Regions from separate parts of the Homo sapiens genome. Here region 1 is linked to region 2. The links come from fine-mapping of genetic effects on gene expression. A gene starts in region 2. The other region holds a variant in brackets. All regions are shown on one strand. Distances are between the middles of the regions.

The links. PIP is the estimated chance that this variant, and not a neighbour inherited with it, causes the effect.
Region 1: its variant is fine-mapped to the expression of PDCD11 in whole blood (TOPMed, PIP above 0.99).

The regions. Positions count from the first base shown.
Region 1 is chr10:103,451,538-103,466,384 of GRCh38, forward strand. CALHM2 (calcium homeostasis modulator family member 2) reads right to left here and starts at 833. Exons shown (of 4, transcript NM_015916.5): 1 at 619-833. It overlaps CALHM1 (calcium homeostasis modulator 1), which reads right to left and starts at 7,363. Exons shown (of 2, transcript NM_001001412.4): 1 at 6,660-7,363; 2 at 1,703-4,210. The coding sequence starts at 7,214. The coding sequence ends at 3,725. It overlaps LOC124902494 (a long non-coding RNA gene), which reads left to right and starts at 906. Exons shown (of 2, transcript XR_007062275.1): 1 at 906-1,699; 2 at 10,893-11,158. RefSeq lists enhancers at 1-444, 445-1,066, 7,214-7,373 and a silencer at 905-1,234. The variant C/T (reference allele first, on the strand shown) is at 4,282.
Region 2 is chr10:103,393,170-103,408,058 of GRCh38, forward strand. It overlaps PDCD11 (programmed cell death 11), which reads left to right and starts at 3,457. Exons shown (of 36, transcript NM_014976.2): 1 at 3,457-3,561; 2 at 5,247-5,359; 3 at 7,228-7,359; 4 at 9,949-10,116; 5 at 11,853-12,014; 6 at 12,816-12,939; 7 at 13,440-13,621. The coding sequence starts at 5,258. ATP5MK (ATP synthase membrane subunit k) reads right to left here and starts at 3,306. Exons shown (of 5, transcript NM_001206427.2): 1 at 3,240-3,306; 2 at 2,577-2,863. MIR1307 (microRNA 1307) reads right to left here and starts at 1,232; the gene lies at 1,084-1,232. RefSeq lists enhancers at 2,569-3,401, 2,794-2,883, 3,034-3,283, 3,941-4,442, 4,443-4,943.

The DNA of each region.
Region 1 (14,847 bases), 58 kb after region 2:
CTGTCCCTGCCAAGGAAGGCTGCCAGATGGGCTCAGGCAGAGCCATGTGGCCATGCAGACTCCAAGAAAAGGAGAAGCTGGAGGAGGAGGACCAGGAGGAACAACAGGAGGAGGAGGAGGAGGAGGAGGAGGAGGAGGAGTCTGATTCTTCCCCCACTTCACAGCCTGGAGCTTCCAGCCTAACTTCCTGGGAAAGGCAGTTTGCATCACTGCTGGGGAAGAATGGGTTAAAGTCAGCCCCCTTTGCCCCATCCTTTTCCCTTCTTGGCTTCTAGGCTCCTAATTAGCTCCCTGTGGAGGCCCTGGGTTCATAAACTGGCTCAAAGTGGGGTACAAGATACCTGCACAGGGTGGGTGGTGAGCAGAGGATGGGCCAGGCCATCTTCTGAGACCACTGCCCCCAGGCCAAGGATGGGTCACATCCAGACCCCCAGTGGGACCTCCTCCAACATCAGTGACGACAGGAGACTGGCGGCTCGGGGAGGGGCAGGACTGCTCCCTGTTCAACCGGGTGGAGGGAACCTCAGCTAGGGGCCTCTCTCCCTCTGGGCAGCGTGGGACAGGCCCCACCATGCTCCGCTGACACCTGGCACACCCCAGGGAGGGCCCCTTCCTTACCTGGGGCCAGCTGTGGGCACTTGTGGCCATGGCCTCCTCGGGGCCGGACTCTCCAAGTGGCCTCCAGGAGGGCGGTGCAGGGCAGCGGCGGCCTCCGCCGTTCCCTCCCGCTTTTCTTCTGCACGGGGGCCTGGGGCTGGTGGCGGCTTCAGACTAATCTAACTCCAGAAAAGAGAGAAGAAAACAGTGGGATGGAGTCTGCGCGCCAGTGAGTGGAAAAACAGCCTCCCGGCGCCACCAGGCAGAGGAGGGCGGGCCCCGAGGGCGGCGCGAGAGGAGAGGAGCCGAGAGGAAGTTGAGATGCCTGTTCTGCAGCTGCTGCGCGTCCCACCGACCCGCTGCTCGCCGTCCCTGGGCCGTGCTGGCCCTCCGCCCTCGGCCCAGACCCGGACCGGGCCATGCTCCACACCAATGGGACCAGTCGGGAGGGCCACGTGGGGATGTGGAGGCATTGGGGAGATCTGACCCAGACCTGCCCCCCATGACAGTTTCAAGAGCACCCCACGTACTTGACCCCCGCTGGGCAGAAGCTACCAAAGGAGACCCCGCGAGGGTCAAGGGAGGGTGTCGTCAGGCCCGCGCTGAGCCCTGCAGGATGCTCAGGGCCAGGGCCCCACCCTCTACTGGCCCTTCTCCCTCAGAGTTGTCCATTGACTGGACAAACCATCCCCAATGCTGACTCTTTGACCTATAGTCAGCTAACTCCCCGGGACCTGCTTCGGATCCCTGGAGGGCTGAGGATTGAATTCAGGAGCCTAGGGATTCTCCGGGTCCTGCAGGCAGAGCTCCAACTGGTGGGTGAAAGTTACAAGGAGGCAGGTTTCTGAAGGAAGCCCTGTGTAATAATCAGAGCTGCCCAGCCTGTATCTAAAAGTGGTCAAGATGCGGGCTGAAGCGTCACGGGTCAGGAATGCTGCACAGGAGAGTCTACGGACAGGCTAGATGACCCTTAGCATGGAGGGAGAGGACCCCCGACATCTGTCAGCTCTGCAGTGCTCGTGGTTCCGTCATGGTGGAGCTGCCGAGTGACCCGCTGGCCTCCCTGAGCTGGGCTTGACCATATGTACGAAGGAAAGAAAAGGTACCAAGTTCTGCTTGTTTATTTGTTTGTTTCAGATCCCAGCATGTGCTAAACACAGTCCCAGATCCTTCCCTAAAAGTTATCTTCCTCTATCCTTACCACAATCCTGAAAATCAGGTCTTTTTTAAAAAATAATTTTTTCATTTTAAAAAAATTATAAATCTTCTCTTTATTCTTCTTCTTCTTCTTATTATTATTATTACTTTACAGAGACAGAGTCTTGCTATGTTGCCCAGGCTGGTCTCCAACTCCCAGGCTCAAGTGATCCTCCCTCCTTGGCCTCCCAAGTGCTGGGATTACAGGCATGAGCCACTCCGCCTGGCCAAGCAGGTCTTCTAATATCCATTTTATAGACAGACACACTGAGGCTTAGAGTGGCTGGGTGACTGGCCACAAGTCCTGCAGTGCTGGTATTTGAACTCAGGTGTGCCTGACCCAAAGCTTTGCTCTTCATCACATTTGTACCTCCTGATACCTCCGGGCCTTCTCTTCCCACTGGAAGTGCTGCCACCCACCAACATACACCTTGTTTTTTGCTCATCCTAATCCTCCCTGACTTCAGGGCCCATACCAACTCCTACCTCCTGGAAGAGCCCTCCCAGCCCACCTTGGCCCACAAAGATCTGAGCAACTCCTCCCAAATAATTAAGAGGAGGGAAACTGGACCCCAGAAGTGGGAATAGAGGGAAGGATGGATAAAAAAGGATGGAATCATGCCAAGATCAAAATGAATCCTTAGATGCTTGGGACTTATGTCTCAGAGCTGAGGGCGGTGCTGAGAAACCTATCTGTACCTCTGTTTCCTCCTCAACAAGATGGAAGCTCGAGTGTTTGTGTTGCTGTCTCATCCCTGCCCAGGGGAGGAGGAAGGAAGTCCTTAGGTTCAGAAATCAACAAATACATTAGCCACCCTGTGCTGGGTGCCTACTATGTGCCATGTGCTTTTACACACAGCAACCCCATGATGGCGGGCCGGGGGGGCCTCATCCTCATTGTATAGATGAAGAAACGAAGGCACAGGCAGTGATGCAGCTGGCCCAGGGACAGGGTTTGTGAGTGGTAGAGACACCATTTGACCCAGTTCTGTCTCACTCTGGAATCTGAGCTGCTTTCTCTTTACACTGCTCTCCTCCACCCTCATCCCACCTGGGCTAGAGCCTTGGAGCTCCTCTTAGCCTCTTAGAACTCCATCCCCAAGAGGTGGGGTCTTTGAGAAAAATGGAGAGACTTCAGCTTCTGTGTCTAACTTCTCAAGCCTTGGGGATGGTCTGATTTCCCCTGGAGACCTGGATGTGACGGGGGTATTAAGGTGGTTTTTCAAAGACCCCTCTACAGGAGGACTTTTGTGCTTGGTTTGTGCTAAATAAACATGCAGTCCACCTGGACAATTGTCACATGACCCCCATGGTGACCACACACTCTGACCTCTTCCATGTGAACCTAGCTTCTGACATCTTGTCTCATCGCCTGTCACCCCAGGTGTGTCACACCAGGTAGGCTGTGTGTCATGTCCTTATGGACCTGCCCCGGCACACCCAGTCTCACCTACGACACGCTTGCCCAAATCAGAGGGCTCCCACTTCATGAGACGCCTGATGATTCCCACTCCCCGAGCCCGGAGCATAAAGGAAGAGAGGTACTGAACAGCCACAGACGAGGGTGGACCCTGGGGCAGGGATGTCTGTTGAACCTGGGAGGAGACAGTGAACATCAGCCTGGGAAGGGCTGGGCAGAGGGGAGCCATTGGTCCCTGTACCTGCCATGACAGTTCCGACCCCTTTAGACTAATACTGCTCATGGGCCCACTGCCCTAGGGCCATCCAGGGCAGTGTCACACCTGAAGGCATCAGATCCCCTTCCAGCTCCAAATTTCCTGCCTCCAATGGGCAGGCGAGTGCTAGGGAGTGTGGATCTGCCTAGGGGAGTACTGCCCAGCACTGAAACCCTTCCTTTTTCCACCTGGTTTGGGGGTTGGAGGGGCTGTGGGCTCAGATCCCCGTTCCTGCCTCTTCAGCTGGCCACACCTCACACTTTGCTGAAGTAGGTGGCCACCTCCTTACGCGGAGGCCGGGGCCCACCCCCAGCCCAGCCGTTGCCCATCAGCGGTGGCTCCTCCTGGCCCAGCCGCAGAGGCGGTTTGCATTTGTGCCAGCTCGTGAGCAGCCTGTTCATGGTGCCTTGATCCGTGATGCCACGCAGCTTCTCCCTTTCCTCCTCCGCACCATCGGGGGTCGTGGGGGCAGCTGCGGAAGCAGGGGCCGTGGCCAGTGTCCCGTGGGTGTGACCCAGCTCCAGGTCATGGTTCATGGCCTCGAAGAACTGCTGGATGCAGACCTTGGCAAAGGCTTTGGCGTGCTCCGTGCACGTCTCGTCGAAGAGCTTGCGCTCGATGTCGATATAGTGGGACCAGTACTTGCTCTTGAGGAAGGCGGCCTGCGTGAAGCAGGGCCGCACAGAGCGCACCACGAATGCCAGCAGAGTGGTCAGCAGCACGAAGGACCAGCCCAGCGCCTGTGGGAAGATGAGAGAGAGTCACGGGGCACTGTCCTTGGGCCTCCGAGCCTGTTCAGACTCCCAAAGCA[C/T]TCTCTATGCCAGTGCCTCTAGGGCAAAGAGCACAAATTGGGCAAGTGAGCTTGCCTCTTGGCCTCCATTTCCTCATCTGTAAAATGGGCATAGAAATTGAAATAATGGAGATAGGTGCACCTCATGGAAAGAAGATCACGTGGGTAAAGCACCCACCGTGCTGGCGGGGCACCCAGGGCCCAGGAGTTAAGTGGGCAGACCCTGGAGTTAGGCTGCTTGGGTTTGAATGCTGTCTCCACTATTTACTAGTTGACCAGGAGCAAAGCACTCAACTTCTCTGTGCCTCAGTTTCCACACCTATAAAGCAGCTGGTGGTAGCACCTATCTCAGAGTGTTGTTGTGAGGACTGAATGTGATAAGCTTAGTGCAGTGCCTGGTACCCAGTGCTCAGTGACTATTAACCATTACTGTTGTGCCAATAGGCCCTCACTTACTTACTGTGCCTCTTCTTTCAGGAAGCCTTCCTTGATCTCCCCAGGCCATAGTGGCCCATTTTCCTCTGAGTCCTGAACCTCTCCTTTGGCTCCTAGTATTGTCACCAGTGCCAAATGAGCACCTCCTCTGTGTCGGTTCTGAGCTGGGCCTTCAGGGGTCATAGAGGCGAATCAGGCAAGAAATCAAACTCTGCGCTGAAGAGCACCCTGCGCTTGGTTCCAGCTCTGCTCTGTCACCTCACTGCAGGGCACGGGGCAGGATGCTCCCCTGGCCCACGCTTCAGGGTTAGGCCCCAGCCGCACAGAGAAGCACTTGGGCAGATCAGGACTGGGGCTGAGGGCAAGCCCAGATGCCTATGGGGCCAGGCAGGTCGTGACAGAGCACACGGGGTGGGGAGCCACTGAGCATGTGCATAGGCTGGGGGCACCCCAGCCTGTTCCAGGAGTACACGCGGGCCTGGTGGGGCTGGATTTTCTGGATTTCCAACTTGAAAATCTGATTTTTATGTGAAAAATTCCGATTTTTATTTTAATCTTATTTACTTTTTTGTTTTGAGACAGGTCTTACTCCGTTACCCAAGCCAGAGTGCAGTGGCACAATTACATTTCACTGCAGCCTTGACCTCCCAGGCTCAAGCAATCCTCTCACTTCAGCTTCCTGTGTAGCTGGGACTACAGGCATGTGCCACCAAGCCTGGCTAATTTTTTTCTTTTCTTTTCTTTTTTGGAGACAGGGTCTCACTATATTCCCTAGGCTGGTCTTGAACTCCTGGGCTCTAGCAATCTTCTTGCCTTGGCCTCCCAAAGTGCTGGGATTACAGACATGAGGCACATCGTACCCGGCCCATTCTGGTTTTTAGAAGATGCCAACAAATTCTAAAGTTGAATCTAGAATTCAGTCTCTGAAGGCCAAATGAAACATGTATAGGCCAGGCAGCCTGTGGCCTCTGGGGCCCTCTCAGCTTATGATGTGGTGGCTTAAAGGTCAGGTGGAATGACAGCTGCCAAGGCCCTGAGGCCGGGGACGATGGGATGAGTGCCCACAGGAGAGGAGGCACAGGTTAGGGAGGAGAGGGAAGTAGAGTTCAGTCGGGATGCTTAGAGCATGACATTCACCAAGGTCATCTGGGTGGTGACAGAGGCCTCCCAGGAGAGAGGCCCCTGCTAGAGTGGGAAGCCAGGGGTGTCTGGACTTGCCAGGGCAGAGTGTGCACGTTTCTCCAGTCCTTGCAGAGCAGGCTGGCCCCAGCCCCTCGCCCTGACAGCACCTGGTCTGCCAGCTGTGAGGGCAGGCTGCCTGGGTGGTCCTCCCCACACGGCACTGACTGGGTTGGAGAAGGCCCGAGAGGCTTGGATGGGTGAGCATGGAGGGGCAGAGGATGTGGGAGTAGGGCTGGGGAGGACCCTCACTCTGGCTGACCCGTCAGTGGTCTCTCCAAACTGCCTTTCCATCACATCCCAACAGGGCCTCCTCTCTCTCACCCATGCACCCCCTTCCAGGACACCCTGGTCCTCAGCTCCCACTCCCCAGCAGGGAAGCACCAGATGGGGGCATTTGCTAGGGAAATGTACCCAAATGGCCTAGCCACCCACTGGCCTCACCACTGCCGAGGCCCGGAAGAGGGAAAGCATGCAAATTCCTCCAGCTTCCAAGCTCAGAAATCAGGATGGGGATGCAGGTCCACTCTGGGGACCTCAGGATAGGGGTCAGGCCCACTCACCAGAAGCCTCTGGACAGAGGGAGCCAAAGCACGTTCTCCGGATGGCCCTGGGCTGAGGGCAGATGCGTGGCTCTGCCTTCAGCCTCAGTTGGGAAGATGCCCCCCACACCTCGGAGCTCCACCTGAGCAGAGGCCCCATTTTGAGAGGTAGGGGGATAGGGCCCTCCCAGAGGGACCTTGATCTGCCAGGGAGACCCAGCGTGAAGCCATGCGGCCCCTCACCTGGGAGATGCAGCGGAGGTAACGCACGGCCACCTCTCGGGCCAACAGCCAGTCGCCATCGTAGATCTCAGGGCAGGGCACCCGGGCCAGCAGGCGGGCGAGCTCGGGGGCAGGAAGGCCGGGTGCCAGGCTGCCGTTGCCCAGTGCGCTCACGGGCACGGCAGTGCAGAAGGCACAGAGGAAGCATTTGCCGTCGAGTAGCGTGACGGCCACCCAGACGACAGGCGCGATGAGGGCGCGCTGGGCCATGGAGCAGAACATGTAGCGCAACACAGCGGGGTCCTTGGCCCGGCGGCCCAGCGGCCGCTTCCACTCTTCGGCCAGCATGGACACGTTGTTGTTCATGACCAGGCCAAGCAGAAAGAGCACCAGGGGTGGCGCCAGCAGGATGCCCGCGCTGTAGGCTGCATTGTAGCCCGGCAGGCAGGGGCAGTTGAAGTCGAAGGCCGAGTACATCTGGGCACTGGCCAGGGCCATGATGCCACAGATGCCATTCATGAAGGACTCCTGGTTGGACTGCAGGAACTGGAAGATCATCCGGAACTTGTCCATCATGCCCGCTGTGGGGCCCGGCCTCCTCTTCCCAACTCACTGCTGCCTCCAAGAGGGCCCCTGCTGCCCACCCTGCCCACTGGGTGCCCACCTCATGACTCGGGCTCTCCTGGCTGGGACCAACAGAGCTCAGAGCAGAGGCTGAGGTCACTGTCGCTTTGAGGAATCTTTAGTCAGGTGCTGGCTGAGAGGATGCAGATTGACCAATCCTGTGGGTTCAGCCAGGGCTGTGCCCCTCCCTCCTGGGCTTCTCTCTCTCTGCAGCCGCCTCCACCTCCGGCGCTAGCACCTGCTAGAGACCAGCTTTCTGTGGGTGTGGGAGGGAGGGAGGGAGGGGCGGGAGAGAAGGCTCAGACACAGACTGGGAAGACACTGTCTCCAGCAGGGCTGGAGTTTGGAGAGTCCAGGGCTGCTGCAGGGGCCTGAGGTCCTGGACCTTGTCTTCTGGGCTCCTAGGAAGCTCATCGCCCTCCTTTTGCCCTTCCCACTGGGGGTCTCCTCCATGCTGTATCAGAATCCTAGAGGGCTCCTCCATCAGTTCCCCGATGACGGTGTGGTGCTGCGGTGGTGGTGGCTGCAGTGAGGGTGCTGCTGGTGGTCGTGGGGATACTAGCCACAGAGGGGATGGCAGTGGTGGTGCAGGGGATGGTGCTAATGTGGACGTGGCGTAGAATGAAACATCCTGGATTTGCTGGCAGAGGACTTGAATTTGATAAGTTGCCTGGGCAGGGGCTGTGGCCTGTGAGTGTGCTGCAGGGGTCCTTGTGTCAGCCTGCCTGTGTCTCTGTGGGTGTGCCTGTGTGTTTGTGGGCTGTGGATGGCAAACCCTTTCCTGGCTCCACCTCCGACCTCTACTTCCCCAATCAAAAAATAAAGGGGTCTGCATGCTGACAGCAAGGGGGTGAAAAAATTAAATGGGTGGGGTGATGGGGTTTCATGCCTGGAGTTTGGGCCTCCAGAGTGCCTGCAGAAACCTGGCCAGCCCTCCTCCACAGACACATCAAAGAGGAGGAGCTGAGCATGCTCGCTCTGATGCCCAGGGCTCTCCCTGACCTCCCAAGGGCAGGTCAGATCCAGCTCCAGCCGGGGGGCTCCTGTCTGGGGAAAGGGGTGGGGTCTGGGGCTGAGACAGAGCCTGGCCAGGACATCCCCATGGGGCCCACAGATCTGTGCCTCCCCATGTGTGTGCCCACATGTGAGCTCACTGTGCCTTTGGGCCTCTGCATCTGTGTATCCGTGTGTGTGTGTGACCACGTTAGTGATCTTTGTGTCTGAGGGTCTCTGTATCACTGACCAGAACCAGCATTGACCCAGGCTTGCCCTGGGTGGAGCCCCATGGCAGGCACTTACATGCATTGCCTGTGTAATCTTCTTACAATCCTATGGGACAGGTACTGCCATCCCCATTTTACAGAGATGGGGACTGAGGCTTGGAGAGGTTAAGTTATCAGCTGAGAGTTACCCAGCTTGTAGGTGGAGGAGTGGGACTGGAACCCAGGCTAGCTCTCTCGTGGGGCTGGGAGTGGGGGGTGGAGGAGGGGTCAGGAAATGTTTTTTGGCCTTTCTCTTCTGGGCAAATCAGGCTCCTGTTCTGCTGGTCTGGGTGGAGATGCTGGAGTGTCACCAATAGGATACAGTGGGGAAGGATGTTGCTCCTCTTGCTGTCAGGCTGGGCTTGGGGCAAATGGAGCCCCCAGGCTGGTAGCCTCCGGAAGACCCTTGCAGAGGCTCCCCAGGGAACACTATAGGTGGATGGCAGGATGAGGGAGGTCCAGTGATGGAGGCGACCTACCCTGCACGTCTCCTGCAGTGTTTGCGTGCATGGCCAACAGCAGGTGTGAGCTGATGCCAGAGCTGGGGTGGGCTTGGGGTGGTCCAGGAAACCAGGAGGAGTGGTTTCAGGGGGCCACCTGGAATTCTGTCTTGTATATTGCACACAGCTCCCTGTTTGTAGATAATGTGCCTTTCTAGTAGTGCCCATACTGCGTGCTCTAACCACATATACACATTCTGCAAATTCTAAGCGCAGTGTTATTTTAAAATACTTGAGGCTGGGCACAGTGGCTTAAACCTGTAATCCCAGCACTTTTGGGAGGCCAAGGTGGGAGGATCACTTGAACCCAGGAGTTTGAGGCTGTGGTGAGCCATGATCACAATACTGCATTCCAGTCTGGATGACAGAGCAAGACCTTGTCTCTAAATAAATAATAATAATAATAATAATAATAATAATAGTTTGATTAGATTCTCAATCAATCATTATCATAAGAATTTTGGTTGCAGGGTGGGCACTGTGGCTCACAGCTGTAATCCCAACACTTTGGGAGGCCACGGAGGGAGGATTGCTTGAGCCCAGGAGTTTAAGACCAGCCTGGGCAACATAGAGAGACCCAGTCTCTATGCCTGAAAAAAAAATGTGTTACAGTTGTCAGTGAGAGTGAAGAGTGAGGGTTAATTCTTTTTTTTGAGACAGGGTCTCACTCTGTCACCCAGCCTGCTGTGCAGTGGCATGATCTCAGCTCACTATAACCTCTACCTCCAAGCCATCCTCCCACTTCAGGCTCCTGAGCAGCTGGGACTATAGGTGTGCATCACCATGCCCGGCTAATTTTTGTATTTTTTCCTTGTCTCAAAAAAAAAATTATCACCTACTTGGGGTAAGTTTTTTTGTGGGTGGTGTTTATCCAACATTTGAAGAAATCATCATTAAAGAGCCTTCATGAGGGCGGGTGCGGTGGCTCACACCCATAATCCCAGCACTTTGGGAGGCTGAGGTGGGCAGAGCACAAGGTCAGGAGATCAAGAAACCCTGTCTGTACTAAAAATACAAAAACTTAGCCGGGCGTGGTGGCGCACGCTTGTAGTCCTAGCTACTCGAGAGTCTGAGGCAGGAGTATCGCTTGAACCCAGGAGACAGAGGTTGCAGTGAGCCGAGATCGCGCCATTGCACTCCAGCCTGGGTGACAGAGTGAGACTCCTATATCTCAAAAAAAAAAAAAAAAAAAAAAAAGACCTGATGAGCTGGGAGTGGTGTGGCTCATGCCTGAAATCCTAGCACACTGGGACACCGAGATGGGCGGATCACTTGAGATCAGGAGTTCCAGACCAGCCTGGCCAACATGGTGAAACCTCGTCTCTACTAAAAATACAAAAATGGCTGGGTGTGGTGGCTCACACCTATAATCCCAACACTTTGGGAGGCCGAGGCGGGAGGATCACCTGAGGTCAGGAGTTCGAGACCAGCCTGGCCAACATGGTGAAACCCCATCTCTACTAAAAATACAAAAATTAGCTGGGTGTGGTGGCGGGCACCTGTAATCCCAGCTACTCAGGAGGCTGAGGCAGGAGAATCACTTGAACCCAGGAGATGGAGGTTGCAGTGAGCCAAGATCATGCCACTGCACTCCAGTGTGGGTGACAGAGCGAGACTCTGTCTCAGAAATATAAATAAATAAATAAAATAAAGAGCCTCGAATAGGAATTGCCTGTGGTCATTTCATGCAAAAAAACACCTCATATTAAAAAGTGCTCACGAAAGCAAGCTCATTTCTCATTTTGAGAAGTTTAGGAGGTTTCATTTGGATGTTTTACACAAGTCTTTCCTAATACTTTATATTTCATTTTTTCCTATCATAATTATATAAGATAAAGAAATAGTAATCTTTTTGTTTTTTTCACCAGGCATCCCATGGATGTCTCCTAGTTCCCTCACTGTGGCCCAGTGTTGTATATCAACGTCATCATGGATACACCTCCTGTGGGAGGTGATTAGGCCATGAGGGTGGAGCCCTCGTGAATGGAATTGGTGCCCTTATAGAAGGGACCCTGGACCCTGGACCTCCACTCTGCAAGGATACAGTGAGAAGGCAGAACCCAGCCTCAGGTACACTCATCTCAGACTTGCAGCCTCCTGAACTGTGAGAAATAAATGTTTGTTGTCTGTGGTATGTTTTGTTACTGTGGCCCAAGCTGTTGGACACAGGGACACCCCTGGGCTCCCAGGCACCACCCTTCCCTCACGCTGCTGCTCTCCTGGAACACGGTCGTGCCTCACTGCCCATCCAAAGCCACATCCCGGCTCCACCTGCTCACTCCTTGTTTCTTCCACTCGATGGTCAAATTTTTCTCTTACCAAGAAGCTGGCCAGGTGCAGTGGCTCACACCTGTAATCCCAGCACTTTGGGAGGCTGAAACAGGCAGATCATTTGAGGTCAGGAGTTCGAGACCAGCCTGACCAACATGGTGAAACCCCGTCTCTACTAAAGATACAAAAAAAAAAAAAAAATTAGCCAGGTGTGGTGGTGTGTACCTGTAATTCCAGCTACTCGGGAGGCTGAGGCAGGAGAATCGCTTGAACCCAGGAAGCGGAGGTTGCAGTGAGCTGAGATCATGCCACTGCCTGGGCGACAGAGCAAGACTCCCTCTCAAAAAAAAAAAAAAAAAAAAAAAAAGCCATGTCACAGAGCTAAGAGCAACCCAACCAGTGATCTGGGTTCAAGTCTCAGTCTGGCCACACACTAGCCAGGGACCTTGGGCAAGTCATCTAACCTCTGGGTGCTGCAGCGTTCTCATCCGTGAAATGGGGAGAATGATAGCGCCTGCCTCCCAGGTGGTTGTGAAGATTCAATCAGCTGTGCAGGTCAAGAGTTTCGCAGTGCGCCAGGCACACAAGGAGTGGTCGTGAACCATCTTTACAACATTGTAATAATAATAGTGATCATCTCTGCACCTGAGCTTCAGTAGTGCATTTTCAAAATCTGTATTAGTTTTCTATTAACTGCTGTAACAAATGTCCACAAATACAGTGGCTTAAAACAACATGAATTTTTTTTTCTTGTAGTTCTAAGGTCAGGAGCCTGTAATGGATCTTGGCTGACTAACATCAAGTGGCTGGCAGGCTGTTCCTTCTGGACGCTCTAGAAGAGAATCCATTTCCTCGTATTCTCTACTGTGTAGAGGACACCCACATTCCCTGGCTTGTGACATCGCATTCCTCCAACCTCTGCTTCCCTCATCACAGCTCCTTCTCTGACTCTCACCCTCCTCCTACCTCTCTCTCTCTCTCTCTCTTTTTTTTTTTTTGAGATGGAGTCACTCTGTCACCCAGGCTGGAGTGCAGTGATGTGATCTCAGCTCACTGCAACCTCCGACTCCTGGGATCAAGTGATTCTCCTGCCTCAGCCTCCCTAGTAGCTGGGACTACAGGCGTGCATCACCATGCCTGGCTAATTTTGTATTTTTAGTAGAGACGGGTTTTCACCATGTTGGCCAGGCTTGTCTCGAACCCCTGACCTCAGGTGATCCTCCCCTCTCAGCCTCACAAAGGGCTAGGATTACAGGAGTGAGCCACCGTGCCGGGCCCTACCTCTCTCTTATAAGGACATGCAGGACCCACCTGGCTAATCCAGGATCATTTCCTCATCTCAAAATCCATAATTTAATCACATCTGCAAAGCCCTTTTTGCCATGGAAGGTAACATATTCACAGGTTCTAGACATTAGGAGGTGGACTCTTGGGGGCCCATGGTTCTGTTTAACTTCAGTAGGGGTCTTTGGTGGTGCATTTATCAGTGCTTAGTCTTCTCCATCTCTTCCCTATAACTCCCAGGTCACGACTAAATAAATAAAAAGCAGGATGTCACACACATTTTGGAGCATGGTGGCAAACTCAGCCATGGTCACCACTGTGGGATGTACACTCGCCTCCTGCTTCCTGGCCTTGGGGCTGTTGTCCAAGCACCCAGAGGGCACAGCTGGTGAGTGCCCTCTGGTTTGGAGGAGTTAGGGGTGTCATGAAAAGCAGCATGCAAAGGAGGCTCCTGTGGACAGTGGGTGCCGTACTTTTAGGAAAATGCCCAATTTGCGTAGGAGAGTGTGAGTGTGGGGTGCGTCCAGAGATTGGGGCAGTGGAGGAGGCAGGAGCCAACAGCAAATGTGGCTGCCAAGGCATCTCAGGTGCTGGTAGGCTGGGTTATCAGAGGTATGAAGTCTCTACCTGAGAAAGATAAAATGCTACGTTCTCCTTCATCAGCCAAACCCTATGGGGGTGTATGCTGTGGCAAAATGGTAGCACTCACCAAGTCATTCACGTGTTCCCTTATAATTCTCAGCCTCTGTGCCAGGGAGGCTGGGGCCTTGTGCCTGAGTTCTGGTGCAGAATCTACCCTCATCCTTTACCATCTTCCCATTCTTCTCTGAGGGTGGCCATGGACACCAGGTGTAACAGACCTCTGTGCCCCGCCCACTCCCCTCAGACCTCACCACTACCTTCTTTCTTTTTTTTTTTTTTTGATATGGAGTCTCACTCTGTCGCTAAGGCTGGAGTGCAGTGGTGTGATCTCAGCTCACTGCAACCTCGGCTTCCTGGGTTCAAGTGATTCTCTTGTCTCAGCCTTTCAAGTATCTGGGACAACAGGTGCCCGCCACCACGCCTGGCTAATTTTTGTATTTTTAGTAGAGATGGGGTTTCACCATGTTGGCCAGGTTGGTCTCAAACTCTTGACCTCAAGGGATCCAACCGCCTCGGCCTCCCAAAGTGCTGGAATTACAGTCTTGAGCCATCACACCCAGCCTTTCACCACTATCTTCTAAAGGTTGCTCACTAAAAACAGCCCAGACTGTCTGCCTGAGGGCTTTTTTTTTCTGGCACTGGGTTTACATTTGGCCCAAGGAAACCTGGAGGTGCCCAGCTAGTGCCCTAGCCAGTGACAGCCAGAGATTGGTGAAGACATGCCACCTCCTCGTTCCTGGGGAGCGGTTACTCGTGTTGTGCTCTCCCCGAGCTCCCCGGTCGGATCATGCTCTGGTTGCCCACGGTAGTAACTGGCTGGCGGCTCTACCCTTGGTTGGCTTTCTTCCCTCTCCAGTATCACTTCTGTTCCTTGCAGGGTTCCCCGGAAGCAACATTCTTATAAGCTATGTGCACTCATTTCCTTTTCTCAGGACCTGCTTCTGGGAAATACTGTGGGTCTTTTAAATTTTTATTTGTTTATTTAGAGACAGGTTCTTGCTCCATCTCCCAGACTGGAGTGCAGTGGCACAATCACAGCTCACTGTAACCTTGAACTCGTGGACTCAAAAGATCATTAAGTCTCAACCTCCAAAGTAGCTAGGACTACAGGTGTGCACCACCACGCCCAGCTAGGGTTTTTTTTTTTTTTTGTAATTTTTGTAGAGATAGGGTCTTGCTATGTTGCCCAGGCTGGTCTCAACTCCTGGCCTCAATGGATCCTCCCTTGCCTCGGCCCCCCAAAGTGCTGGGGTTATAGGCGTGAGCCACTGTACCCAGCCATATCATGTGTCTTGATGGTGGCATCACAAGATGGCAGTGTCAGCTGGGTCCCCAAGCGACTGTGTGGGGCAGATCCCCCTTCTTCAACCTCCCTTCCCTGTTTAACTACATCAGGTTTTGCTTGAGTGAGAAATACATCTTTATTGTGTTAAGCTACTGACACTTTTGTTTTATTTTTACTGTATTTTATTATTTATTTATTTATTTTTGAGATGGAGTTTCACTCTCTTGCCCAGGCTGGAATGCAGTGGCATGATCACGGCTCACTGCAACCTCCACTCCCCAGGTTCAAGTGATTCATCCTGCCTCAGCCACCCAGGTAGCTGGGACTATAGGCATGTACCA
Region 2 (14,889 bases):
GAAATGTAAAATGAGATCAATATTTAATCATCAAACAAGCAAAAATAAAATTATGGTAAGTAGTAGTATTAAGTATGTGAGAAAACTAAGAATTCTCTCTCTGTTGCTTGGAGTATAAACTGGTAAAACCAGCCTGGCACGGTGGCTCATGCCTGTAATCCCAGCACTTTGGGAGGCCAAGGCGGGTGGATGCGAGGTCAGGAGATCGAGACCATCCTGGCTAACACGGTGAAACCCTGTCTCTACTAAAAATACAAAAAATTAGCCGGGCGTGGTGGTGGGCGCCTGTAGTCCCAGCTACTCGGGAGGCTGAGGCAGGAGAATGGCATGAACCTGGGAGGCGGAGCTTGCAGTGAGCCTAGATTGCGCCACTGCACTCCAGCCTGGGCGACAGAGCGAGACGCCGTCTCAAAAAAAAAAAAAATAAATAAATAAAAAATAAATAAACTGGTACAACCTTCAGAAAGTGCAAGTTGGCAGTATCTTATCGAATTATAAAATGAGTATACCCTTTCATCTAGCTGGTGTTTTTCTCCAGGAATTTACCCTTATTGAAATATTACAAAGTGGAAACACATTGTGTGGTTCAAAGATGGTCAATGAAATACTGTTTATGAAAATCTTAAAAGTCCATCTATAGAAGACTGATTAAAAAATGATGGTTTCCATTAAACGACACACAACAGGCACAGATCTTTGTGTACTGACATGGGAAGATGTCCCAAGTAACGTTCAATTTTGTAAGAAAAAATCTTATTTCTGGATTTTATAAAGCACGTCAATGGTTCTGGGTCTTGTCCCTAGACCAGCAGCATTAGCATCACTGGAAACTTGTTAGTGCAAATTCTTAGGCCCTACCTATTGAATCAGAAACTCTGGGTCCAGGAATCTATTTTAATAAGGCTTCTAGATAATTCTAAAGCATGCTAAAGTTTGAAAAATACTGCAGTAAATGAAATAGAAAAATAGTAAGTGTATTAAAAAAAACTCTGGAAGAATATATAGCAAAGGCAGCTTAATCTATAGTACCTGTGTATTTTACAAAGGCATGAATTTCTTTTATAGACAAGACGTATTCAAAAGGTCACCAGAACAAGAGCTGAAAATTCGTATGCATGACCGCCTATCTACCACGACCGACGCCACGCCGAGTCGATTGGCAACACAGACGAGCCGGTCGAGGTCCGGTCGAGATTGGTAGGCAGTGACAGTGACTCAGCTGGGTCTTGATGAAATGGAAGAGGGAGATATCTGTCAGGGAGTCATTACTATGGAAACTGGAACTCCCCCATTCAAAGGCTTTCAGAGGCATTCTTGTGTAAAGAATTGGCAATGAAAATTTGAGAAAAATGACCTTAATTTTCAAGTTTCAAGAAGGTTCTTGGAGCAATGAAGGAAATCCAAACTTCCTTAGGCCTCTTCAGAGACCTTGGCCAGTCTAGCCCAAGTAGGAAAATCTCCATTAAAAATAACTTTATACACTTGATCTTAGCCAACAGAAGCGATAAAAGCAACTTTATAATGTAGCTATCAACTGTTCCACTTTACTAAACTTACTAAAGACATACTTCCCCCCGCCCCCCGCCCCCCCACCAGCTCCATTCATTTCATGATACATTTTTGGATTCACTTCTTAGGGTTTGAAGTAGGTTTTTAGGAGAAACGCTACAGAAAATAAGGGCTTCACTTTGACCATTAACGAAAACCTCCACTACATTACATCTAACTAAACTTTTTAGGAGGATATGCCCAACAATACTACAGCGCTTTAAATTTCCCTTTAATTTACACACAATATGGGAGGAAGGCTGATGTTTTGTGATATCCCACAGAAGACTAATTCTGATTGCAGGGAAGTGCATGGTTCAAGAACTGAAATCAATCACTCAAGTTAGTCTGGGTCTTAAAGGAGGAGGACTCTTGAGAGGCTCAAATGGAGGGCCAAATGGGGAACGGGATTGTTGCTGGTGAGATAATGGAGTAAGGTCGAAAAATTTGGTTCTGCACTCTTCAGCACGGTGCAGGTTACTTTAGGGCAAAGATAAAGGAACCCTTGTGTTTACAGTGCCCTTTGTAAGACTCCTAGTTGTGATTTAATGTTGTTAAACGGTGGTATGTTTTAATTAAGTTGCTAACTGCCCTTCTTGAGACAAGGTCTCGCTCTGTCGTCCAGGCTGGAGTGCAGTGGCGCGATCTCAGCTCACTGCAATCTCCGCTTCCCGGGGTCAAGCGGTTCTCCTGCCTCAGCCTCCCGAGTAGCTGGAACTACAGGCGCGCGCCACCACGCCCGGCTAATTTTTGTATTGTTGGTAGGGACGGGGTTTCACCATACTACTCAGGCTGGTCTCGAACTCTGGACCTCAGGTGATCTACCCGCCTCGGCCTCCCAAAGTGCTGGGATTACAGGCGTGAGCCACCGCGCCCGGCCACTAACTGCTCTTAAATGTAACTAATCCTTCCGTGCCTCTCTCCACCTGTGAGATGGGCACTTTATTAAAGGTCCAAAGTGACCAGTAGCTCTTGTTACTTTCTCTGTTCCTCGATATTGCTATTTTCCTTTCTAACTTAACACCTACCTGGAATGGTGAGATCACGAGGTAAGGAAGGCAAAGATGAGTGAGAACCACTCAGGTAACAGAAGCAGCCTCTTGCATTCACGGAGTTTACAGCTCTCTGTTCTGGTTACCTCCTAGGAAAGGCCTTCCCACTGATCGTCTATAGACTGAAATCTAACCCTTTTACAGCGGGCCTGGCGAACTGTAGGGGCCGGGCCACATTCACTCGCTTTGAAAAAGGCTGCAGCGCACCTAAAGGAGGCCCGGCTGGCCAGCTTCCTAAAGCACAGCTCGGTGGGAACAAACAGCTATGGACATACAGAAGAAAAGAGGTTAATTCGGCCGGTGATGGGGATCAGAAGCCCTAGTCCTCGTCCAATATTACGTCACTGGGTGACCTCGAGGGACGCTTCGCGGAGGGCCTCATTTTTCTCCACTGGCGAATGCAATCTAAGGGTCTTCGGAAACTGTGGGAGCCCTTGGGCGCACCTATCCGCCTCACCTCGAGGCTTCTCACCCGCTGGCCGCCCCCTTGCGCCCCTCGTTTTTTCTAGCTCCTTTCCCATTCCCCACCGTTTCTCTCCTCCAAAGCTAAGAACTCGAGTTGCTCCTCGGCCAGAAACGGCGGGCGGTCCTGCAACGTGCAGGCGCCAGGTCCAAGCCCGGACTCCCCTCTTCACCCACCTGCCAAAGCCGCAAATTCCGCAGCTGGTGTCCTTCAACGAATGTAACCACCTCTCGGCCCGGCCGGAAGAAGCCACCTCCCCCGCACGCGTTTAGCCGGCCCCCGCGATTCGGCCTAATGCGACGATTGGCTATGGCTCCAAATCCCGCCCTTCCGATTCCTGTCTCTAGGTCACCTCCGCAACACAGCAACGGAAGTAGGGTGTTGAGCCCGCCCACACTTCCGGAAGAATTGCACTGGACTGTGGGTATCCTGGTCTCCGCGTGTGTGAGTACCGCGGCGCGAGGTTAGTGGTAGCTGGGTGCAGACGCCGTGGCGCTGGTGAGTAAAGGCAGAGGCGAAAAAGGAGGAAACCTCATGGCTGTCAGGTCTGTCCCAGGCCTGGTTCCCTGCCAGGCACACGCTAGATGAGTGTGGTTCGGCCACCTTAGCCCCGCTTCGAAGCCGGCTCTGTTGTAGCAGCCCCTGTAACCCCAGGCTTTGTGTTCGGAAAGTAGCCTAAGTATCTTCTGTGCCCCTGGATCGCCTTACTTTTCAGAGCCTCAGTTTCCCCTTGCTTGAAAGGAAATTAAGGGTGAAATTATCAGCAAACTAGACCCCCCAAACTTTCCTGTTTCTATGAATCATATACCCATCCCTGATTCCATATCCTTGGCCCCACCCGGTCATCACTTCTTTAGTCTAAAGCCCTTGTAGAGTCTTATTACCAAGTGTCTGTCAGAACTAACCTCTCCTGTCTTCTGTTTTCACTTATACCCAGTTCTGGTTCTCATGGTTTCTCTGCTGTACTGCATTTGAATCCTTTTTTTTTTTTTTTTTTTCTGTCACTGAGATAACAGGAAACAGTGCATTTGAATCCTTCTACCGAATTTACTTGCCTTCAATACTGTCTCTCTTCATGTCCAATCTATAGCCTGCAGTATATTTTTCTTGCTTACTGTTCTCTCGCTTTCCCTGCTTAAGTCTCTGACTTGCCAAAGCAAACTACCCATATCTAATTCAAGGTCTTCCACAAAAAAGCCCAACTTCTCCTTTAATTTTTTTGAGACAGAGTCTCACTTTGTCTCCCAGGTTGGAGTGCGGCGGCATGATCTCAGCTCACTGCAACCTCCGCCTCCCGGCCTCAAGCAATTCTCACGCTTCAGCCTGCCTAGTAGCTGGGACTAGGCGCAGGCCACCACGCCCGGCTAATTTTTGCGTTTTTGGTAGAGACGGGGTTTCGCCATGTTGACTATGCTGGTCTCGAACTCCTGACCTCAGATGATCCACGCGCCTCGGGCTCCCGAAGTGCTGGCATTACAGGTGTGAGCCATGGTGCCCGGCCTTCTTTAAAATTTAACTTCAATTTTTATGCTTTAATCTCCCAGTGGTCTAGTTGAATAATTCCTCAGAGACAACAGCAAGCCTTTGAGCAGTTGTTTGATAGGGAAATTGCTGGTGTTTATTGAAATAATAGGCTTTTCCCATCCATGTCTTTTCTCACATTCCCTTTCTACCTGTCAAGCTTCTGTTCATCTTTTACCCTTAAGCTAAAAAAGATCTTCTTTATGAAGCTTGCCTCCTTTACTTATCCCTTCCTACATTGCCTTATCCCTTCCTACATCTTTGTGATCATTTATAATCTGATTTGCATTTTAAGTTACTTGCATAATTGTTTTATCTTCCAAAAAGTGTGCATGTTCTTTGAAGGCAGAGGATTATATATTCATCTGTAGAGCTACAGTGTATCTCTGACTTAACTGTAGCTTCTTAGTGAGTATGTGCTACATTGAATCTATAACTTCTTTTTCTGGAAGAAGGTGGGTGGACTTGTGGTTTTGAAGCAGAGACCTTTGGAAAGATGAAGTATGGATTATTCCGGGCCTGACATCTAAACCATCTATGTTGTAGTCCTGAATGTTGTCTAGCATATTGCTGGAACGTTCTGTCTCTTGCCCGTTGATAACACCTTTCTGAAATCTGCTACCAAGACAACATGTCACCATTATCCTTTGCATTGTTTTTAGGAGACCCAAACATGGCAAACCTGGAAGAAAGCTTCCCCCGAGGAGGTACAAGAAAGATCCACAAACCAGAGAAAGCTTTCCAGCAGTCAGTTGAACAAGACAACTTATTTGATGTAAGTAGTATGCTTGTTTGGTGACACTCACTGGAAACTTTTACTGTAGTGTCTTGTGAAAAATGAGCCTTATTTGAGAATGTGTTATTTTTCCAGATTTTTTTTGCATTGAAGTCTACTTCTATAAATTTAACTCATTTAGAGAGGCCATACCACCACAAGGCTGTATCTTTTGAAGCTTGGCATTTAGTATTAAAGTACTGTTATTAGCTGGGCGTAGTGGCTCATGCCTGTAATCCCAGCAGTTTGGGAAGCCGAGGCAGGCGGATCACTTGAGGCTAGGAATTCAAGAGCAGCCTGGCCAACATGGTGAAACCCCGTCTATACTAATACCAAAACTAGCTGGGCATGGTAGTATACCTGTAGTCCTAGCTACTTGGGAGGCTGAGGCATGAGAATTGCTTGAACCAAGAAGGTGGAGGTTGCACTGACCCAATATTGTGCCACTGCTCTCCTGCCTGGGCGACAGAGTGAGACTCTGTCTCAAAAAACACACAAACAAAATAAATAAAGTGCTGTTCCTTGTTCTTAGACACTCTTTGCCATGTGCCATGTTGATTAAGGATGGAGAGGAAGCAGTTTTTTTTTTTTTTTTTTTTTTGAGACGAAGTCTTACTCTGTTGCCCATGCTGAAGTGCAGTGGCGTGAGTAGCTGGGATTACAGGTGCCTGCTACCATACCTGACTAATTTTTGTATTTTTGTTAGAGATGGGGTTTCACCATGTTGGCCAGGCTGGTCTGAAACTCCTGACCTCAGATGATCTGCTCACCTTGACCTCCCAAAGTGCTGGGATGGCAGGTGTGAGCCACTGCACCCAGCTGATGTTTTTGTTATTTTTGTTGTTGTTTTTTCAAGAGATGGGGAGAGATGATGTTTCACTCTGTTACTCAGGCTGGACTTAAACTCCTGGGCTCAGTCGATCCTCCCTCCTTAGCCTCCTGAGTAACTGGAACAACAGGCATGTTCCACTGTGTCTGACTGATCATTGCATTTTTACAGGGGTTCCTTGCCACATGTAATGGTCAGAATTTGCATTAGACTTCACAGTCTCACCTAGACTAGGCTGTGCTCCAAATGCTTGGGGAAAGGGAACTAACATTTGAGTGTGTGGCTTTAGGTCTGTATTATGTAATCTTTTCAACTGTACTGTGAAGCACTGATTGCAATTCCATGATGAGGAACAGTGTCTTGCTCTGTCGCCCAGGCTGAAGTGCAGTGTTGTGATCTCAGCTCACTGCAACCTCCACTTCTTGGTTCAAGCAATTCTCCTGTATCAGCCTCCCGAGTACCTGGGACTATAGGTGCGTGCTGCCATGCTCGGCTTAATTTTTTTGTATTTTTAGTGGAAAAAAAAATACAGCCTGTTGGCCAGGCTGGTCTTGAACTCCTAATCTCAAGTGATCTTCCCGCCTTGGCCTCCCAAAGTGTTGGGATTACTGGTGTGAGCCACTGTGCCTGGATTTTATATAATTTAGCTGAAACCACATAGCTTGTTATGGTGGAAAAGATGAGAATTTAACTTGGGTCTGTGTAACTCTGGTGTCCATTTTCATGCACTATTCTACATTGCTTCTCAAACTGGGGAACCCAGTGTTCATCCCAGTCAAGAGAGGGAGAACACAAGAGAGAAGAGACTTTGGGAACATGAAGGAGGCTTCTCAGACCTTGGGCAGAGGGAACATTGGCGGCCCCCCCCCTTTTTTTTTTTTTTTTAAGCAAGAATTAAAGGAACAATTGGGAGTGGGATGGGGTAGGGTGGAGTGAAGGAGTAACAAAGCAAGGTGAGTGATGACCTGAAATAGGAGGGAAAACTCAGATTGCTTCTTATTCTTTTGGGTCTTTGTGGGCTCCCCCTACCCGCTTCTAGATTTCTACTGAAGAGGGATCCACCAAAAGAAAAAAGAGCCAGAAGGGGCCAGCAAAAACAAAAAAGTTGAAAATCGAAAAGAGAGAAAGCAGCAAGTCCGCAAGAGAGAAGTTTGAAATCCTTAGTGTTGAGGTTTGTTAAAGTTGGTTTTCATTTAAACAATCGACCTTGGTTGCTTAAGTTTGTGTATGTTCTTTTTTTCTTCTTTCCTTCTTTTTTCCCTTAATTCCATTTTCCCCTTAATATATTATATTTCATGCGTGTGTGTGTAGAGATGCTTGGAATTTATGCTAAGGAGTAAGCATGATTTCCTTCCATTGCTAACCGATGCCAGGAATCTTTTCTTTTTCTTTGTATTTATTTATTATTTTCCAGAGACAGGCCTGACTCTGTTGCTCAGGCTGGAATGCAGGCATGATCATAGCTCACTTTAGTCTTGAACTCCTGGGCTCAAGCAATCTTCCTGCCTCAGCTTCTCCTGAGAAATTGGGACTACTAAAGGTGTGTGTCACCATGCCCAGCTAATTTTTAAATCTTTTGTAGGGCTTGGATCTTGCTATTTTGCCCAGGTTGGTCTCGAACTCCTGTGCTCAAGCAATCCTCCTGCCTCAACCTCCCGAAGTGTTGGGATTATAGACATGAGCTACCCACCGTGCCTGCCCCCTTTTTTTCCTTTAAAGCTGTCGTGGGCTTGTTTGTGTCCTCACAGGACTTGAGTTCTGATATATTCAGAGGTTAGAATGGACAGTAACTTTAGCAGTCATTCTCATCTTACCCATTCATTTCATAGATGTGAAACCCATTTCCAAGAATTGAAGTGGTCTGTGTTCCTTACATTTTTATTTTTTATTTTTTAATTTTGAAATTATTTTATTTTATTTATTTATTTATTTTGAGACGGAATCTCTCTCTGTTGCGCAGTCTGGAGTGCAGTGATGTGATCTCAGCTCACTGCAACCTCTGCCTCCCGGGTTCAAGCGATTCTCCTGCCTCAGCCTCCTGAGTAGCTGGGATTACAGGTGTCTCACCACGCCTGGCTAATTTTTGTATTTTTAATAGAGACGGGGTTTCACCATGTTGGTCAGGCTGGTCTGGAACTCCTGACCTCGTGATCTGCCTGCCTTGGCCTCCCAAAGTGCTGGAATCACAGGCGTGAGCCACCGCGGCCAGCCTGCCTTACATTTTTAGATGATAACACCAATATGTGTTAGTTATAAAAAAGAAAAGAAGTTAAATAACTTTGAAGAGGAACATTCATATTTGGCTAGATTCAGAGTCAATATTTTGTCCTATATGATACTTTAAAAAAATTGTTAGACTTGGTGCCAACATTAGAAAACTAAAATTTTTTTTTTTTTTGAGACGGAGTCTCGCACAGTCGCCCAGGCTGGAGTGCCGTGGTGCCATCTCTGCTCTGCTCACTGCAAGCTCCGCCTCCCGGGTTCTCGCCATTCTCCTGCCTCAGCCTCCTGAGTAGCTGGGACTACAGGCGCCCGCCACCACGCCCAGCTAAGTTTTTGTATTTTTGGTAGAGACGGGGCTTTACCATGTTAGCCAGGATGGTCTCAATATCCTGACCTTGTAATCTGCCCGCCTCCGCCTCCCAAAGTGCTGGGATTACAGGCGTGAGCCACTGCACCTGGCTGAAAACTAAAAATTTTTTTACATGAAAATATGATTTCTGGCTTCTTGTAAAAATTTGAAAGTACTGATAGCAGAAGGCCCGTATTCCCTCATGTTTGTAATGACAAGGAGCTGAGTAGTGGTTGTGTCCTTTAGACCTGGCATGGTCACTCCAGACTGCCATTGTCTCCACTAGCTGGCTTCCTTCATTGTGTTGTCTGCCAGGCATTTGAGTTTGGGTTGCTCAGAATAATGTAAAAGGCAAAGGTGTCCTCCAGTATCCCAGTGCTGTTAACACTGTTGTATAATCTAGACCTTTTACAGTGCTCGGTCAGATATTTGAGAAGTTCACTGATATGTACACATGTGTATTTCTTTTCATTTATAAAATTCCTGTAGGTTTTTATTTTTTATTTATTTTTATTTTTTTATTTTCGAGACAGAGTTTCACTCTTGTTGCCCAGGCTGGAGTGCAGTGGCATGATCTCAGTTCATTGCAACCTCCACCTCCCAGGTTCAGGTGATTCTCCTGCCTCAGCCTCCTGAGTAGCTGGAATTACAGGCACCTGCCACCATGCCCGGCTAATTTTTGTATTTTTAGTAGAGACGGGGTTTTGCCGTGTTGGCCAGGCTGCTCTCGAACTCCTGACCTCAGGTGATCCACCCGCCTCAGCCTCCCAAAGTGCTGGGACTACAGGCATGAGCCACTGTACCCGGCCTATTTTTTATCTTTATTTTTTGAGATAGGGTGTCACTTTGTTGCCAAGGCTGGAGTGCAGTGGTGTGATCACAGCTCACTGCAGACTCAACCTCCTGGCTCAAGCGATCCACTCACCTCCGAGTACCTGCGACTACAGGCGTGTACCACTATGCCTGGCTAATCTTTTTTTTTGGAGAAACTACGTTGCCCAGGCTGGTCTGAAACTCCTGAGCCCAGGCAGTCCTCCTGCCTTGGCCACCCAAAGTATTGGAATTATAGGGCGTAAGCCACTGTGCTTGGCCTTATAGCTTTTAAATTGACACTAGAAGCCAGACCTTCCAACCTTCCCTATTGTTGTTCCCATCCTTATTGTACACATTTCACTTTTTCTCTTCTAGTCCCTGTGTGAGGGAATGCGTATTTTGGGTTGCGTGAAAGAGGTGAATGAACTGGAACTGGTGATTAGTCTCCCCAATGGCCTCCAGGGCTTTGTGCAAGTCACTGAAATCTGTGATGCCTACACCAAAAAGCTGAATGAGCAGGTGACACAAGAACAACCTCTGAAGGTAAGGGAAATCCGAATGAAGCCTGTTATTGAAAATAAGTGGAACACAAATAGATTTAAAATTACAACTTTGCCAGGTGCTAAGAAGGGAAAGTACAAGGTCCCGTGAGAGTTTATCATAAAGGAATTTTTGACTAAGTCTGGGAGCCTGGAAGACTGTTGAGGAAGGGATGCTTAAGCTGAGATCTAAAGAATGAGGGTTCCCTAGATAAAGAAGGAAAGGCGTTCAGGCAGAAGCAATGTAATATATAACAGAGAGAAGGCTAGTATGGCTAGGTAAGGAGAGCAAGAGAGAGTGTGATGTGAGATGGGCAGGAGAGCCTGAATGGGGGCCAGGGCACATGCAGCCTTGTAGACCATTTTAAGGGTTGTTTTTAAATTCTAGAATCAATGGGAAGTCCTTGAAATGTTCTCACTGGGGTACAGCATAACGTGTAGATTGAAGAGGCATGAGAAGTTGCTTAGAGACAAGTTAGGAGGCTCTTGTAGTCGTTCACGTCCTGAGATTGATGGTGACCTGGGTTCAGGATTTCCTGAGGACTGAGGAGGCAAAGTCATTGCTTGGTGATAGATTCAATATGGGTGGTGGGGCAGATAGAGGTGTCAGGGCTGAGTTCTAGGTTTCTGTTTTGCATGATTTGATGCTTGGTCATGACATCCTGAGATAGGAAACCCTGAAGGGGACCTGGATTGGGAGAGATGATCATGATTTTTCAGTTTTTGAGACAGAGTCTCACTCTGTTGCCCAGGCTGGAGTGCAGTGGCATGATCTCAGCTCACTGAAACCTCCATCTCCTGGGTTCAAGTGATTCTCCTGCCTCAGCCTCCCCAGTAGCTGGGATTACAGGTGCCAGCCACCACACCCAGCTAATTTTTGTATTTTCGGTAGAGACAGGGCTTCACCATGTTGGCCAGGCTGGTCTCTAACTCCTGACCTCAAATGATCCACCCGCCTCGGCCTCCCAGAGTGTTGGGATTATAGGTGTGAGCCATCATGCCTGACCTATGATTTTTGTTTGTTTGTTTGTTTTTGAGATGGAGTCTCACTCTTTAGCCCAGGCTGGAGTGCAGTGACATGATCTCAGCTCACTGCAACCTCCAGCTCCCAGATTCAAGCAATTCTCCTGCCTCAGCCTCCTGAGTAGCTGGGATTACAGGCAGATGTCACCACACCCAGCTAATTTTTGTATTTTTAGTAGAGACAGGGTTTTACCATGTTGGCCAGGCTGGTCTCAAACTCCTGACGTCAGGTGATCTGCCCGCCTTGGCCTCCCTAAGTGCTGGGATTACAGGCATGAGCCACCACACCCGACCCTCAAGTGCTTTTTAATGGTCATGTAAGAGATAGACTGCAAAACTGACCACTGGATTTAACAATATGGAACTCATTGGTGATTCTATGGGAGATAGAGTGGTGGAGTGAGAGGGGTGGAAAGCAGATTGCAGTGAGCCGAAGAATGAGTAAGGGATGAAGTAGAGGCAGAAAGTGTAGACAACTCTTTTGACAAGTCATTTTACATGCCAGTTATGTGGAAATATTTGAAGGCCTTATGCTGAAATTCAAGACTGTGGCTAGGCCACAGACCCAACTTCCTTTGTGGATGGGGGGTTATTCCTCACCCACCTTTTGGGTTCTCTGGGGTCTGAGGATGAGAAGTCACTGAGCCAAAGCTGGGTAATGGATTTTTGGTTCAGGAGAAGGGTGTATATCAGGTCTTTCTCATTTGTGTTATGCAGGACCTACTTCACTTGCCTGAACTTTTCTCACCTGGAATGCTGGTAAGATGTGTGGTGAGCAGTCTGGGCATCACAGACAGGGGCAAGAAGAGTGTCAAGCTGTCTCTGAACCCCAAAAATGTCAACAGAGTGCTGAGTGCTGAGGCCCTGAAGCCTGGCATGGTAGGTGTCTAGGGTCGGGGAGGAAGAGTGGCAATGTGCCTTCTCTCTGCCTCTGAGGGAGCGTGGTCTAGGCCACCTTTTACTTTCAGCTCAATTGTGACACATAGGAGTGGTTCTTTTTCTGGAAGGAAGGTCTCTTGGGTTCTTTGGGCACTTAATGGACATTGAAGACTTGAACCTAATCATTACATTGGAGAAGAGAAAAGAGAAAGCAAGTCCAAATTTCTTTTTTTTTTTTGAGTCGGAGTTTCGCTGTTGTTGCCCAGGCTAGAAAGCAGTGGCATGATCTCGGCTCACCACAGCCTCCACCTCCTGGGTTTAAGCAATTCTTCTGCCTCAACCTCCTGAGGCAGGGATTACAGGTGCCATGCCCAGCTAATTTTTGTATTTTTAATAGAGACGGGATTTCACCATGTTGGCCAGGCTGGTCTCAAACTCTTGACCTCAAGTGATCTGCCTGCCTCAGCCTTCCAAAATGCTGGGATTACAGGCATGAGCCACTGTGCCCTGCCGAAAGTTTGCTATCTTTTGAAACCACTTGAGGCAAGAGACTCTTCTATATTGTTCCATCATTCAGCTGTGTTAAACATTCCTCATTGCCTGGCAACCATCAGCTCCTTCAAGCCTGGGAGTGTTGAATTTGATGTCTGCTGTCTAGTGGGATTGTGGCTTAAGGTTTAATGTGGGAGTGGGATAGTGGCAGAGTGTGAGCTTAGTGGCAGGAACATTCAAGTTTGGATGTTTTGTGTGTGTCCCATTACCTTTGAATTGGAACTTCTGGGACTACTTTCTCTTCCCCAGCTACTTACAGGTACCGTATCCAGCCTGGAAGACCATGGCTACCTAGTGGACATTGGTGTTGATGGGACCAGAGCTTTTCTGCCACTGCTGAAAGCCCAGGAGTACATCAGACAGAAGAACAAAGGTGAGGGCAAGAAAAGGGGCCAGTACATGGTGGTGAGGTGGTACATGTGGGGATTATATTTAAGTGCCATTTTGATGAGTAACATGACAGAATGGTGACCCTGAAGGTGCTGTGGCTTTGGTAAAACCAGCACTTAATCCTAGTTAATAGGAAAGGAAAGATGTATGAAGGGCCAGCGAGTGGTAAGGTCTCACTAAGATCTGATGGAACAGTGTCAGTTTTTCTAACCTGGAAGATTCCACTGCAATTAGGGCCCCCATGGCTTCTGAACCAGCAGTCTCCTGGCTTGTGTATTTTTGTGTGGTAATTGAATTCCAGATCAATTAGGATAACTTCGTTTCCTTCTTGTAGTTGGCCCCTTAAAGATTGGGAATTTGGGGAGTAACTGATGCTAACTGGGCAGGTAGGCCATGGGTCTTTTCAGGTATTACTTGGGCCCACGTTAAAAGTCCTTCTCATAGATACATTTTTCCTTTTGGGGCCTGGGTCTGGGCTTACAGGTGCTAAACTAAAGGTGGGTCAGTACCTGAACTGCATTGTTGAAAAGGTGAAAGGCAACGGAGGAGTTGTTAGTCTGTCTGTTGGTCACTCAGAGGTTTCTACGGCCATTGCTACTGAACAGCAGAGCTGGAACCTTAATAACTTGCTACCAGGACTGGTGGTCAAAGCTCAGGTACAGAAGGTAAGCTGTTATGCTACTACTACTTTTTAAAATAAAAATAATTCTTTTCAAAATATTAAATGCATAAAGTCTAAAACTACTGTCTGATAAAGGTAGTCACTAGTCACTTACGCCCATTGAGCATTTCAAATGTGGCCAGTGCCACATGTTGAAATGATAATATTTTGGATATATTAGGTTAAAAAACTATACTAAAAAGTCTTTTGTTTCTTTGTAGTTTCTAAAATGTGACTGCTAGAAAACTTAAAATTACTTGTGTGACTGACATTGTATTTCTGTTGGACAGTGCTGATCTGAAAGGTCAAATGGAATTAAAAGGTTTATAATGAAGAACTTATCCGTCATAACCCCCATCTTTAACTCTTTTAGCTTATCTTTTGAAATTTCTCTCCATATTTTTGAGTAATAAGCTTCTGCTGGTATCTCTTGATTTTTCCATCTTAGGCATTGAGTTTTAACTTTTTATCAAGGTAGAAAAGATTTTGGTCTCTCTTTTTTTAATTAAAAAATATATATATTTTCCTAGCACTTTGGAGGCCGAGGCAGGCTGATCACGAGGTCAGGAGATCGAGACCATCTTGGCTAACACGGTGAAACCCCGTCTCTGCTAAAAATACAAAAAATTAGCTGGGTGTGGTGGCGGGTACCTGTAGTCCCAGCTACTCGGGAGGCTGAGGCAGGAGAATGGCGTGAACCCAGGAGGTGGAGCTTGCAGTGAGCCAAGATTGTGCCACTGCATTCCAGCCTGGGCGACTGTGCGAGACTCCGTCTCAAACAAACAAACAAAATATATATATTTTATAGAGGTGAAGTCTTACTCTGTTGCCCAGGCTGGTGTTGAACTCCTGAGCTCTAGTGATCCTCCCACCCTGGCCTCCCAAAGTGCTGGGATTACAGGCATGAGTGACCTCACCCAGCATACTAGCATGACTTTCTTTTTTTTTTTGAGACGGAGGCTCGCCCTGTTGCCCAGGCTGGCATGCAGTGGCGTGATCTCGGGTCACTGCAACCTCTGCCTCCCGGATTCAAGCGATCCCCCTGCCTCAGCCTCCCGAGTAGCTGGGACTACAGGCATACACCACCACACCCGGCTGGTTTTTGTGTTTTTAGTAGAGACAGGGTTTCACCATGTTGGCCAGGCTTGTGTCAAAATCCTGACCTTAAGTGATCTGCCTGCCTGGGCCTTCCAAAATGCCGTGATTACAGGTGTGAGCCACCACACCTGGCCTACTATGACCTTGAACAGCTTTTTTCCCTTGGAGTTGGCA